3 separate regions of the Homo sapiens genome follow, and regions 2 and 3 are each linked to region 1. The links come from fine-mapping of genetic effects on gene expression. A gene starts in region 1. Each other region holds a variant in brackets. All regions are shown on one strand. Distances are from middle to middle.

Region 1 (2,760 bases):
ACAGTGTATTGTATGAGTTATCCCTAAGGCGCGCACACACACGGGTAGGTATTACCTGTACATTTGAAATCTCACTCCATAACTAATTTTTTTAGCCCAGGCTCTTCTCATTGGGTTCCTGGACAAAATCATTTCTAACCCAGCTAAGAAATATGGAATGCAACTTAGGTCAAGACAATGAGCCTGCCAAGGCTCCTGGACTTCCCACTAGTCTGCCAGTGCCTGGAGCACCCACAGCTGCACAGGAAGCTGCTGTGCCCGGCTACCTCCAGGTCCCCGCACCGGGTCGGCAAGGTGCAGCAGCCCCCAAACCCAGGCTCCGAATATTCCCCAAGCGCGCTGAGTGCGAGGTCCCCACCCGCCTCCGTCTGGGGATGCCCGGTCTTGCTCCCTAGACTAGATTCCCTCTCGAGTTATCTACGACCCTGTTCCACCGAGGGCGCTGCGTTCTCATAGCCTAGACAGACGTTCCCAGCGTTCCAGCCCCACCAGCCACCTCCGACACCCCACCGCGGCGTTCCCATCCAGCCAAGCCCCAGCATCCGCCCATTAGCCAGCTGCCGGCGGTTCCCATCACAACTCCGCTCCTCGCGCCCACCCTCTCAGAGAAGCCCCCTCCATCTTTCCCCGGCGAAAGCACATGCCTAGACCCACCCTACTCTTTCCGGGGTTCCCCTACCTCGGGCTGCCCTTCCTCGGGCTCTCCCTACCGCCCCGGGCTTCCTCTCCTCCGCACTCCCCTCCCAGGTTCCGTTCCCCTCCGCCCTGCGGAGGGCGCCCCACAAATGCGGACAGGACGCCCCTCGTTCTGCCCTGTCGGACTCCCCCACGTCTTGGTCCTGAATCTCCCGCCCTCCGGGCTCAGCCTTCCCAACATCGCGGTCCCCACACCCCCGCCAGCTCTCCAGGCTCAGGCTCCATGACTCCCCAGCATCGCAGTCCTGGCCACCCCACTACAGCCGTTCAGAGCTCCAGGGCTCCCCAGCATCCTAACCCGTCGTCCCCCCTTCCGGGCTTGGATTCGGAGACTCAACATCGGGGCCCTAAACTCCGGCCCCTGGCCTCAGGTTCCCAACGCTGCGACTCTGGACCTCCCCTCTGAGCTCGGGGTGCGAGGACTCCCCAACGCCGCGATCCTGACGTCCCCGCCTCCCGAGCTCGGGCCCCGGGGCTCCCCGACCTCGCGGTCCCAATACCCAACTCGACCCGTTCCGCGCCTCCCGCGGCGGGACTCACCGGCAGGGGCGGCGGCCGAGCCCGTGCGCGTAGCCCAGCCCGGCCCAGCCCGCGCTCCCGCCTCGGGGTCCCGGCCACGAGCTTCCCGCGGGTGGCTGTGACCGCGGCGGGCTCGGCTCGGGGGAGCGGCCGGGAGGAGGAGACCGCCGGGGGCGGGTGACGCCCAGCTCCGCCCCTTCCCGACCCGGGGGCGGGATGCGCAGACCCGCGCGCTCCGCTGCAGCCCGCGCCGCTGCCGCCGCTGCGAGGAAGTTGACTGACGCCGCTTCCTTCCACCCAGGACGCAGACCCTCGCAGTCCCTGGTAGCTGCAAAAAATCCGGAGAGTTTGAGACAGAGACGCCTTAACCGCCCTCATATTCTTTCCAAGAATTCACCTCTCAGGGGGCCATTTCCGAAGTCCCTCGGGAAGGGCGGAAAACAATAACAAACTTCATCTGCGCTGTCAAGACTGATTTAAATCCTGGCCTTTCTCTCACCACTCTCGGGTGAACGTTCAGGGTCATGCCCATGATATAAATAATGTGATGACATACCACGGAGGCCCTTGCAGACACTTCCACACCCCTAAGATACACCCGCCCAAGACTCGCGCCTCTCCCATGACTACATCACACAGACACATCTGACACTGACCTGCAGAAGATCCCACTTCTACCCTGTGTCCTCAATCCACAGCCTTCGTGGGTCCCAGCAATAGCGACCCACACATACAATCTATTGGAGGCAGGGTGCGGGGGTGGGTTCCACCTCCCGACTTGCTCCTCACCCACAATGTTCTCGGTATTTTACCATGAGAAAAAGACAGTTAAGAAGTTGGATGATCAATTAACAAATCAAGTTGGCTTTGCTTTTAAAAAGCCTTCTTCATTATCTGGAGAAAAGAGAAGGCCTGGGAAGATGGCCTGCTTACTGTAAGATTTTGTCAGACAGGCCTAATTCTGGTCTGCTTACTGTAAGATTTTCTCAGACGGCCTAATTCTGGTCTGCTTACTGTAAGATTTTCTCAGGCCTAATTCTGGTCTGCTGGTTCCCAAAACTTCTCTTATACCACCGTGTTTCAGTGACATGTTGCACAACATCTCACATTTGTACAATGTTTCCATTTTTCAAAACATTTTAGCCGAGTGTGATGGTTCACACCTGTAATCCCAGAACTTTGGGAAGCCAAAGTGGGCAGATTGCTTAAGCCCAGGAGTTCGAGACCAGCCTGGGTAACAAGGTGAGACCCTGTCTCTGCAAAAAATACAAAAATTAGATGGGCGTGGTGGCACACGCCTGTAGTCCCAGCTACTTATTCTCAGGCAAACATCACGAAGCAAAGAAAGTAATCTTAGCAGGATTATTTCAGTTCCATAAATGAAGACATTTAGACTCTGAGCAGTTGCACGGCAGGTTTGAAGCTGAGTCAGAGCCAGGAAAGAGCCCAGGGGCCTGTCTTTAGAGCCACTGATCTCCCCAGGGAATCATAGTCCAGCACTTACTTATAGGTGGATACTAGTGGAAATGTCACAGGAGGTCTTTG
Region 2 (2,760 bases), 29 kb before region 1:
CACAAACTTGGAATAGCTGATTCCCTGGAAAGAACACTGGGCAAGAAATTAGAAGTCCCAATGTTTAGTTCTAGCTCTATCACTATGTGACACTTTTTTTTTTTTTTTTGAGATGGAGTCTCGCTCTGTCACCCAGGCTGGAATGCAGTGGCGCGATCTTGCCTCATTGTAACCTCCGCCTCCTGGGTTCAAGCAATTCTCCCGCCTCAGCCTCCCGAGTAGTTGGGACTAAGGGCGCACACTGCCACACCCAGCTAGTTTTTTTTGCATTTTAGTAGAGACGGGGTTTCACCGTGTTGCCCAGGCTGGTCTCGAACTCCTGAGCTCAGGCAATCTGCCCGCCTAGGCCTCCCAAAGTGCTCTAAGTGATTTTTAAGCAAATTATTCAACCTCTCTATGCCTTGGTGCCCTTGTCCTTAAGATGGGGGTGTAATCTATATAAGCTCTAATACTGTAAAATTCTGTAATTCATCTGGGCTATGTTTTGCTTTGTACTGAACATCAAGCAGCATGCTGGAATCACCAACAAACAGATCCTGTGACATCACTTCATGTCACTGTGTGTGGGACTCACACAGATGGTAGGAAAGTGACCTGCTGGTTGTTGGATAGAGGACAAATGAGCAGCAATTCCTATCAAAGGCAAAAGAAATGCTTCCAGAATTCACAGAAGCCCAGCTTCACACATCACTGCATAATTATAAATGGCTGCAAAGGAATAGCAGCCAAAATGACAACTTGGTGTCCATTTATAAGGACTGGAACTGTGCTTTAAGCAGCCTTTGAGCCAGAGGTGGAGTTGGAAACAGTCTCACATGCCTCAGGATCTCCATAGTCGTTAAGTGAGAGAACTCTGGGCTCATACTGATCTTTATAGCTACATCTTCCAAGGAGCATATCACTATTTGTAAAGTCATATTTGAAAGAATGGCACTACCAGTGCAATCCTGTTATTAGCAGAGATCATTTGAACATCGATTCAGATTCACCAATGGTCAGTGCATATTTCCTCCCTATATTTAACAAAACCTAACAAACAGAATTTCGACATCCAAAAATGGAGTATTTGATTGTGTAAATTAAGATAAATCTATAAAATAGAATACTATGCACTTATTAAAATAACTAGCATATTTACATTTATTGTTATACAAAGATACACATGATATGTGAGCTCCATTGGTTTTTCACTGTAGTCTCCACTGCACTTAGAAAAGTGATGGACTAGCACATTGTAC[A/G]TTCTCAAAAAAGATTTCTTGAATGAATAAATGAGTCAAAGACATGTAAAGGAAAAAACAAATTTAAAGTATGTGTTCCGCCCAGCCCTATTTTTGTAATCATACAAACATGGTACAGATGAAGTATGGAAGTGCATATAATCAAAACAATATAGCTATTGCCATGAAGGGATTGTGGGGAATTTTACTTTTCTTCTGGAAATACTATCATTATCGTACTTTTTAACAACAAACATTTACTACTTTTGTAATTGGAAAGCAAAAGTTAGTACTACTCTGCAAATAGGAATATTTGACATAAATATGCAAAAATTGGTAAAACCTAAGTTGGTAAAATATTAAGACCCTCCCCAAGAAACACCCCAGCATTATAAAGGAATACACCCATACTTGCATTTTTCTGTGAGCTCAACTAGTTAGCATACCAAATTAATTATTACGAGTAACCTAACTATACTTGCCATAGGGTAAGCTATTGGTCATGGGGGGTTTAAAGGGAAAAAAATATGTAACATCTACTGTTAATGCAGCAAAGATGTTCTCTTAGATTGGAAAAGCCAGTATACACAATATTGTCAAAAGACCTTCCCCACAGCACACAAACTCAAACGGCATTAATACGTGAGTCACTTCCTGACCATGTGGGTTTGTGGTACGGCTGAACCGTGCCTATAAAAAAAAAGTAAGGTACACCTTTTTGCCACAGATCTGGCAGCAAGATGTGTCCTTCTGGGCTCAGTGAGCTCTCCACTTATGAATCTTTTCCTCTGTGGTGCCCTATAATATTCCTAAGAGGAGAAAGAAAAGACAGCCTTAATTTGTTGCTGTGCCCTGGGAAAGATGAGCAGAGCAAATTTCCTCTGAGTGCCTTTTTCTCTTTATCTAACTAGAACCCTCTAGCTAGAATTTCTGTCTGTTCTGTCACTTCCTATACTTTCCACATCTCAGCTAATCTCACTTGAGAAAGTACTGGTTTCAAAATGCATCATTACAGACAGAGAATGCATCTGCCACATGGAATAAATAGTATCTGTGTTTAATCTGTCGAGTGGGAGAAGTCAGAGGAGCTGGGAACAATTTACTGGGAGAACACACTGAGCAGTCTCCAGGCAATCAACAGTTCAGGTGTGAAGATCATGTTCTTCTGAGGCTTCTTGTTTGAGTAAAGGTAAACTTTGCTGTCTGAAACTCCCACTAATTAAAGCCTAGGGACAGGTGTCTCCCTGGACTTTCTACATGAGTGTAACTATCGGCTTCGTTAGGTGTGGTTTGGCTTCAGTCAGGCAACCTCTCAACTAGATCTAGCTTCTCACCGGCAGGAAGCTTCATCACTGATCTGCAAACCAGCTGGGACCCGGGCCAACCCGGGTGAACGTGAAGAGAGCTGCTCATTTCCACTGGCAGGAAATCAATCTTGGAAATGCCCTTTCCACAGCAGAAAATCAGATAACAAATCGAGCTAGAGTTTGGAGCACCATATAAAGAAAGCTGTGTTCCCTAGCAATTAAACATTAACTCTTCT
Region 3 (2,760 bases), 28 kb after region 1:
TAGATGAGCCTGGAGGACTTTATGTTAAGTGAAATACACCAAGCACTGAAAGACAAATACCGCATGATCTCACTCATGTGGGAGATAAAATAAATTTTTTGAGCCCATGGAAGTAGAGAGTAGAATTGTGAGTATTAGAGGCTGGGAAGGGTGGGTGAGGGAGGGGAGGAGGGTGAGAGTTCTGGTGCTTTGCGAATGTGGTTAATTATAATTTATTGTATATTCTCAAAAAGCTACAAGATGATTTTGAATGTTCACAACACAAAGAAATGGTAAGTGTTTGAAGTGATGATATGCTAATTACCCTGATTTGATCATTACTCATTGTATGCATGTATTAAAATAGCACTCCAGCTGGGTGCGGTGGCTCACGCCTGTAATCCCAGCACTTTGGGAGGCTGAGGCAGGCTGATCACAAGGTCAGGAGATTGAGACCAACCTGGCTAACATTGTGAAACCCCGTCTCTACTAAAAATACAAAAAATTAGCTGGGCATGGTGATGCGTGCCTGTAGTCACAGCTACTCAGGAGGCTGAGGCAGGAGAATCGCTTGAACCCGGGAGGCGGAGGTTGCAGTGAGCTGAGATTGCACCACTGCACTCCAGCCTGGGTGAAAGAGCGAGACTCCATCTCAAAAAAAAAAAGAAAAAGAAATAGCACTCCATATCCCATCAATTTGTACAATTATTACATGACAACTAAAAATAAAAGGAAAAAGCAAAGCAAAGAGGCTGGAGAGAAAGGAGTGTAATTCCATCCCTTTGTGGTAGTGGGGGTCCAGTAGGAGGCTGGGCTAGGCAGGGAAGCAAGGAACTCACTTGCCCAACTCCAGGGATTTCAGATCTTCCTGTTTGTACAAGCAGGTGGTTTATTTCTAAATAAGCTATTTTGGATTCTTACTTTGCATAGAGTTTGTACATGTTTTCTGCAAAAGCCCAGGCAGAGGCCTCTGGGAGGGGAGTTTGGTGATGAAGTCAGCCAGAATGAGGCTTTTGATATATGGAACTTTTGCCTGATTTCAAGCAATATATCTTCTGCTCCCTTTATTCTTTCCACTTTCTCAGCTCCACCAGCCACATGGTTTTCTTTTTTATCCAACAGGTATAGGTGAATCAACTGCCTCTCTATGGTAGAGTGTCTATTATTCTAACAAGGGCCAGCCCCAGGAAAAACTGCAGCAGTTGAAGTTCAGCTTCTCCTCTTCCTCCCTACCCTACCAACTCTGTAGCACAATCTAGTTGTCAAGGAACCCA[A/G]AACATTTGTGGTTTAATGTGTGACCTTTCTCACAGTGTTTTCATCCTGATAGGCCTGTTACATTTTGCTTTCCTGTGCATTTTCTCATTTGGCCAGCAACCCTGTGAATAAAACACTCGTGAGCATTATCTCCCAAAAGGTATTTTGGACCACTTATGAAATTAACTGTCATCTTCTGAGAGCTTGCTACCTGCCAGTCACTGTGCTGAATGCCTTACATACCTCAACTAATCGTCATAATCACTGTGAAGCTGATACTCTTATCCCTAATTTCCAGAGGAGAAAGCTAGGTATACATAACTTGCCCAAGGTCACACAGCTAACTAGCGGCAAAATCAGGATTAAAGCCTGGGTCTGACCAAGTCCAAATCCTGTGCTCTTATCTCTTTCACCATTCTGCCTGTGCAGAAGGCAGGACAGGTATTAGTATGCCTGTTTTCTTTGTCTTTTCTTTCTTTCTTTCTTTCTTTCTTTCTTTCTTTCTTTCTTTCTTTCTTTCTTTCTTTTTCTTTCTTTCTTTCTCCTTCCTTCCTTCCTTCCTTCCTTCCTTCTTTCTCTCTCTCTCTCTCTCTCCTTCCTTCCTTCCTTCCTTCCTTCCTTCCTTCCTTCCTTCCTTCCTTCTCTCTCTCTCTCTCTCTCTCTCTCTCTCTTTCTCTCTTTCTCTCTTTCTCTCTTTCTCTCTTTCTCTCTTTCTCTCTTTCTTTCTTTCTTTCTTGAGACGGGGTGTCACTCCATTGCCCAGGCTGGAGTGCAGTGGCTCAATCCTAGCTCACTGCAGCCTCGACCTCTTTAGCTCAAGCAATCCTCCCACCTCAGCCTTCTGAGTAGTGGGGACTACAGGTATACATCACCATACCCGGCTAATTTTTGTATTTTTTTTTAGAGATAGCGTCTTGCTATGTTGCCCAGGCTGGTCTTAAACTCCTGGGCTCAAGCAATTCTCCCACCTTGGCCTCCCAACGTGCCGGAATTGCAGGTGTGAGCAGCTGCACCTAGCCATATGCCCATTTTCTAAAGAACTTTTTCTCTTTTAAAATGGAATTTCAGAGAACTATTTCACAGAACTCCCAGTGGCAGAGTTGGGGCTAGAGCCCCTTTAATAGATGACGACAGAAGAAAAATTCCTACCTCCTGATTGGGCCACCATGTAGGCTTCTAGGCACAGTAATAGGAAATGTAAAAACCTTCCTGTACCTCTCACATCATGTAGTCAGCACCTGACTCTTACTTCATAAATTGAGTCCACGTGGGGCGTGGTGGCTCACTCCTGTAATCCCAGCACTTTGGGAGGCTAAGGCGGATCGATCACAAGGTCAGGAGATCAAGACCAGCCTGGCCAACATGGTGAAACACCATCTCTACTAAACATACAAAAATTAGCCGGGCGTGGTGGTGTGTGCCTGTAATCCCAACTACTCAGGAGGCTGAGGCAGAGAATTGCTTGAACCCGGGAGGTGGAGGTTGCAATGAACCGAGATCACGCCACTGCACTCCAGCCTGGGCCAC

Evidence for each region. PIP is the estimated chance that this variant, and not a neighbour inherited with it, causes the effect.
Region 2: its variant is fine-mapped to the expression of PAQR8 in whole blood (TOPMed, PIP above 0.99).
Region 3: its variant is fine-mapped to the expression of PAQR8 in NK cells (Gilchrist 2021, PIP 0.95).

What each region holds. Positions count from the first base shown.
Region 1 is chr6:52,360,726-52,363,485 of GRCh38, reverse strand. PAQR8 (progestin and adipoQ receptor family member 8) reads right to left here and starts at 1,335. Exons shown (of 2, transcript NM_133367.5): 1 at 1,237-1,335. RefSeq lists silencers at 1,083-1,572, 1,746-1,931.
Region 2 is chr6:52,389,693-52,392,452 of GRCh38, reverse strand. All of the region lies in intron 1 of PAQR8 (progestin and adipoQ receptor family member 8), which reads right to left. Among named protein-coding and RNA genes, the nearest start is that of PAQR8, 29 kb to the right of the region's middle. RefSeq lists enhancers at 2,188-2,397, 1,039-2,760. The variant A/G (reference allele first, on the strand shown) is at 1,239.
Region 3 is chr6:52,332,498-52,335,257 of GRCh38, reverse strand. No RefSeq gene overlaps it. Among named protein-coding and RNA genes, the nearest start is that of PAQR8, 28 kb to the left of the region's middle. The variant A/G (reference allele first, on the strand shown) is at 1,254.